Regions from separate parts of the Homo sapiens genome. Here region 1 is linked to region 2. Evidence: fine-mapped expression QTL. A gene starts in region 2. The other region holds a variant in brackets. All regions are shown on one strand. Distances are from middle to middle. Region 1 overlaps NSMCE2 (NSE2 SUMO ligase component of SMC5/6 complex). Region 2 holds the start of WASHC5 (WASH complex subunit 5).

Region 1 (2,914 bases), 79 kb before region 2:
GTCTTTAACCTTTAAATCCCAGTTCTGCCTTGTATTAGCTGTGTAATCTTGGGCAAGTTTCTTCACCACTCAGACAATCAATTTCTTCATCTATAATCTACTTAACCTTTGAGTATTAAATGAATTAATGTAGGTAAAGAATTTAGAGTTTTAAAATACAGTAGCCAACATGGTCATTAAAATCTAAATTAATTAAAATTAAATAAAATTAAACACTGAGTTCCTCGGTCACACTGCCAAGTGCTCAAGAGCTCTCTCTGCATGTGGCTAGTGACTACCACACCACTCTGGACAGAGCAGATATAGAACGTTTCCATCACTGCAGGAAGAGGCACTGGGAAGTGCTGACTTAGAGAATACTCTCTAGTACTTGGTAAGCACTCAAATGATCACAGCTGCTATTATTATTACTGGTATTCTTATGGTCACATTGTTGTTATTATTATTATTATAGCAAGTTTAAGATGTAGCCAGACAAAATCTGGTAGAAGAGATGAACAAGTCAGAAGCAATTTAAATGCTGTAATCTGATCAGAATTAGCAGCAGTATTAGTAGCAGCAGCTGCTCTCAACTATTTATTATTGGCAAGGTACTGAGGTAAGCACTTCATACTGTTTATTTTATTTAACCCTCCCCCAAACAAATAACATTATAGGTAAGAATGAATACATCCTATGCTATTGATTAGGAACTGAAGCTGAGGAGCGGTCTAATTACAAGGGGTTGAAGAGCTCAGTATTGGAGCTAGGACTGACTGCATTAGCAGGTCTGTTATATCGCTAAGTCCATGACATACTACTAACCCTAGACTTCAACTATTTACTTAGAGCCTATTAGAGGCCACACACTGCTCCAGGAGCTGGGAACACAGCAGTCAAGAGAACCAGTTCCTGCCCTTGTGGAGTTTGTATTCTACTTGAGTAGAAGAATAATAAGAAAATACGTAACTAGCTAAATGGTATAAGTGCCATGGAGAACAATTGAGCAGAGTGGAAATGAGTGAGCTCTTCTGTGATGGACGGTCAAGGCAGGCTTCAATGAAAAGACGACATCTGAACCAGAGACCTAAAGAAAATGAGGGGGTGAGCCATATAGTTGGAGTCACAGTAAAAAGGGTTTGGGAAGTAACAGGGGATGAGGTCAGTAGTATTAATCAAAGCAGGGTGCGAAGTGGGACAGATGACGGAGGGCTTTAGCTTTTATTCTGAGAGAGATGTGTGAAGGTTTTGCACAGAGTAGTAAAAACCTCTGATTTTCTTTTTAAAAGGGTCATTCTGGCTGTGAGGATGAGAACCACTTTAGGGGAGGAGGAGCAGAAGCAGGAGAGCAGTCAGTAGGCTGCTGCAGGCATCCAGGTAAAAAGTGATGATGGCATGGATTAGGGTGACAGTAGGAGAAACAGTGAGAGGTGGTTAGACTCTA[A/G]ATACATGTTGTAGGTAGAAATAATAAGGTTGGCTGGGTGCGGTGGCTCACGCCTGTAATCCCAGCACTTTGGGAGGCCAAGCCGGGTGGATCACCTGAGGTCAGGAGTTCGAGACCAGCCTGGCCAACATGGTGAAACCCCATCACTTCTAAAAACACAAAAGTTAGTCGGGCATGGTGGCACATGCCTGTAAATCCCAGCTACTCAGGAGGCTGAGGCAGGAGAATCTCCTGAACCCGGGAGGTGGAGTTTGCAGTGAGCCGAGACAGCGCCATTTGCACTCCAGCCTGCCCAAGAGGCCAAGAGAGCGAGACTCTGTCTTAAAAAAAAAAAAAAAAAAAAAAAAAAAAAAAAAAAAAAAGAAATAAAGAGTAAGGTTTATTGATGGACTGGATATGGGCTGTGAAAAAATTAAGGAACAAAGGACAACTCTGGATTTTGGTCTAATTAAAAATGGAATAGTAATACTGCCATTTTCTAAGATGGGGAAGTCAGGAGGAACAGCTGGTTTTGGAGAAAAACAAGAGTTTAGTTTTGGAAGGTTAAATGTGCAATGCCTATGAGAATGAAATAAAGTGAAAATGAAGAGAAGACAGTTATATGTCTGAGATGTGGTTTTGGAGAGAGGACTAGGTTACAGCTACAAATGCTATGAAAAATGATTAACTTCATGATGTTATGAGAGCACATGAGAGTAATCCACTTGGCAAACAGAGATGGGATGATATCAGAGCAGGCTGTAAGAAAGGAGCTAGCCTCAGTCTGTGGAGAGTAAGAAAGAGTCAGCTATTTGGAAATGAAAAAAAAAAAGCACTCCCAGTAGATAGTGTGTGCTAAGGCCAGAGGCAAGAGAACATTCAAAGAGCTAGTGTAAAAGAATAGTACAAAATGAGACTAGAGAGGTAAGGAGGGGTGTACACCATGTAAAGAAATTTGAGCTTAAAGCTGAAAGTAACAAGGAAAAACTGAAGAAGGTAAAGTTATGGAAAAGGCAGGAAAAAAAAAATCAAATGTTCACTTTAGAAAGATCTCGTGGGCTACCAGATAAGAAATATAGGAGAAGACAGCAACTGTGTGCAGCCAGTGTGCCCAAGGGGACTGAAGACTGTGAACATGGGAATGGAGGTAGGTGAATTAATTTGAGAAGCAGGAAAATTTGGAGATGGAATGTAAAATGTGAAGAGCTAAGTAGGGGAAGTAAGGACGACAACAGATTTCTGATAGGAGAAACTGGGTGGATGATATTACCATTTACGAAGTTACAGAATCCCAGGAGAAAATCATGGGGAAAACGTCACTGTGGGACACTGAATTTAAGGAGCCTATAGCACATTTAAGTAGAGAATGTCAAATCTATCATTAAGTTTATGTGTGTGGTTCTAAGATGAGAAATCTAGAATGGAAATAAAGATCTGGGACTCAGCAGCATAAAGACAGCAATTCAAGTTATGAGCATAGATGCTATTTCTCAGGAAGAGTATGCAGTGTGA
Region 2 (2,914 bases):
TATCTGGCCTAAAATGTCAATAGTGCATCAGTTGAGAATAACTGGTTTAAATCAATCTCTCTTGGATCCCTCCCCAGGTAATAACACTGATCTTTTTCTTCCCGGTACCTATGATCTCCAAGAAAGTTTAGAACAAGTTGTGCATTTCCTGAGTTTTTTCTCTGCATGTTATTTATAGACAATATGTTGACTTCCTTTAAATCCATGGGAGCCTTGTACAAGTCAGCCAGAGCTGCCTCTCCTTTTTCAACATGCAAGGATAATCCCTTCTCTCTGAATCCTTCTCATACAATTGCTTTTCCCTCCCTCATGCTACCATTATCCCTATCACATGCACATGTACACAACACACTCCTATTATGAAACTCATCACAACTATTTGCTCACATGTCTGCAGCTTCTTTAAACTGACACCTCCTTAAACTAGAACCCTGACATATTCTATTGCATATAAAGCAATTCCTCACACAAAATAGGGGACCAATAAAGATTTGGCCAGTTACAAAAATAACAACAGACATCATCATTTCTCGGTCACCTACAGAATGCCATAAACTGGTGTCCCGGCACTTTATTCTCCTTATCGCTAATTCTCACTGCAATCTACATAACTGAAGAGGAAATTGAGGTCCAGAGAGTTTATTCAAACGACCTTCCCGTGGCCTTACTTTTAAAGTCAGTTCAAACAAAATCTATTTGGATCAAAAATTCGTAATCTTGCCCCTACACACTTGAGGCGAAAGGATGGAGAGATGGCGTCTCGGACAGGAGGGTAAACTGTCCCAGACTCACTACCGTGGCGTGAAAAGTTCCACAACCATAATCCGGGTAGACGGACCCCCGGCTCGGAGTCCCCGTGGAGTGTCCCTGAGGGTGGCGAAACTCCTGCCACCCTCCCCATTGCCGTCCCCCGCTTCTTCCCTACCTGGTAGTCCAAGCTGTCTCCGTCTGGTGGCACCCCAATTTCCCCTGCCTAGACCCACCTCCTTTCCTCAGCCCCCTTCGCCTGCCGCTGAAAAGTGAGAGCGGGCTCTTGCGTCATCAGCCGTCGCCGGCGAGTGGTCACATGATGCCCCTCCCTGCTCCCAGCCGCTTCGGTCATGTGACCGCCTGGGGAGTCAGGGGCGGAAGTCGGGGTCTGACCCGCTCCAGGTCCGGGACTGCGGATAGAAGAGGACCGCCGCCTTGAGGGAGGGGTGGAAACTGGGTGCCGGCTCCGCGCGCGACCTCCGGCCCTGCGCGTGCGCCGTGGCGCGGCCCGGCTGACAGGTGAGTGGGGATGGAGTGAGCGCGCCCCATTTTTGCATGGCCCCCTTCCCCTCCCCGCTGGGCCGCGCTGGCCACGGGGAGGTCTGCAGAGTCGCGTGCAGCCTGGATGGGGGACTCGGGATGGAGGGCTTAGGGGCTTTCTGGGGCGGGGGCTGTAATCCAGCTCTTCGTCTCCGCTTAGGGGGAAATCATTTTGCACACCCCTTCCTCGCTTTAGGAAGCACCGTTCAGCTGCTTGGTCCGAATCTCATCCTTCCAAGTTTCCGGGAACACTGCTGTATGGATGTCGTCGTTATTTCTCTTTGCTTTTGAGAAAACTGAAAGGCTAGTAGTGAGGACTTTTACAGGCTGACAGACGTGGATTTGCATTCTAGTTATGCCATGGGCTGTGAGTTTGGGCAAGTCATTGCTGCTCGCCGCGCCTTAATGCCTTCACCTGTGACATACTGATGTCAAAATCCTTTGCATTTGGGGGAAAAAAAAAAAGTTCCCAGGGCCCTGATTCCTGGGATCGGAATCAGGATTATGATCGGACAGGAGAAAGAAAAAAAGTCACAGAGCCATAAAACTGGGTCTCCTGATTGCAAGCGCATGGAGCTCCCTCAAACATAGGTGAGGCGTAGTGAGGGCGAAGTTTTACTGTCTTTGTGCACTACAAGGGACACCTTCTCTAATTGTCCTTCACCTGCCTTTCCCAGGATTTCAGGTTCAGCCTCATTTCAGAACTTTTCTGGAAAATATATGCAGCTTGCATTTATCTTGATCAGCAACCGTTATATTTTGTTTGTGATAATGGATTTGTGGAGACCAGTGCTTCCTTTATGGAACTGAGGTTTTGCGAAAGGCTAAAAATAGACCTGCCTTCTTTTGTCCTCTGAAGAGGGTAAACTGTTTGTCCACGACAATTCGATTTCCTTAAGAAATATTATTCTGTACTCAGGGTAATTGGTGTAAGGATGTCATGCCTTATTCTTGAAAGCATGTCTTTTGATTAGGATTACTTCCCAAACTGAAAATCACAGTTCCACGCCAAATTATTAAAAATGAAGTTACCGGCACTTGTAAAAGAAAATAAGAAAATATAGTGGGATCTCTGGATTTCATGCCAATAATAATATAGCCTGTATTGAGAAAACTGATCTTCAAGTGTTCTTGATCCCTAGCACCAAGAGAACCTCTGAAAGGATAATTTAACATAGCTTCTTCTACAGTGTTTATTTGGACCTAATTCTAAAGTGGTTTTTTAAGACTTAGCTGAGTCTTAACACTTTGTAAAGCCATCCACCTACCTCTTAGCTGCAACTTGATTAGGCATTTTTAATGATGGTTCTTAGATTCTGTTCTTCAGGACTAGTCCTTCAGCCAACGAGGGGGCTATTTACCAAATACTCTAGCCAAATTATATTTGTACAAATTATGGAAATTCCATTTGTTACATGGAAAATATAACTAGTCCGGGTTAGGAGGTCTAGTACATAAAATGTAACTAAGTGATTTCCTTCTTTCAGCTAATCTTGTTTTAACTTCTTCCATCTTCAAAAACTTAGCAGGAGATGCTTGCATTATTAGAAATAGAAAACACAAGTGCCCTTCATGGGGCAAAACAGATTACAAGCAGTGAGTTCATTTCAGTAAAAGTATATTA

What was found. PIP is the estimated chance that this variant, and not a neighbour inherited with it, causes the effect. A credible set is the group of variants that fine-mapping cannot tell apart.
Region 1: its variant is the best candidate, but not a certain one, in a credible set for the expression of WASHC5 in whole blood (TOPMed, PIP 0.65).

Annotation. Positions count from the first base shown.
Region 1 is chr8:125,169,248-125,172,161 of GRCh38, reverse strand. All of the region lies in intron 4 of NSMCE2 (NSE2 SUMO ligase component of SMC5/6 complex), which reads right to left. Among named protein-coding and RNA genes, the nearest start is that of NSMCE2, 79 kb to the right of the region's middle. The variant A/G (reference allele first, on the strand shown) is at 1,424.
Region 2 is chr8:125,089,970-125,092,883 of GRCh38, reverse strand. It overlaps WASHC5 (WASH complex subunit 5), which reads left to right and starts at 1,092. Exons shown (of 29, transcript NM_014846.4): 1 at 1,092-1,269. It overlaps NSMCE2 (NSE2 SUMO ligase component of SMC5/6 complex), which reads right to left and starts at 1,024. Exons shown (of 8, transcript NM_173685.4): 1 at 926-1,024. RefSeq lists an enhancer at 933-1,152 and a silencer at 1,203-1,372.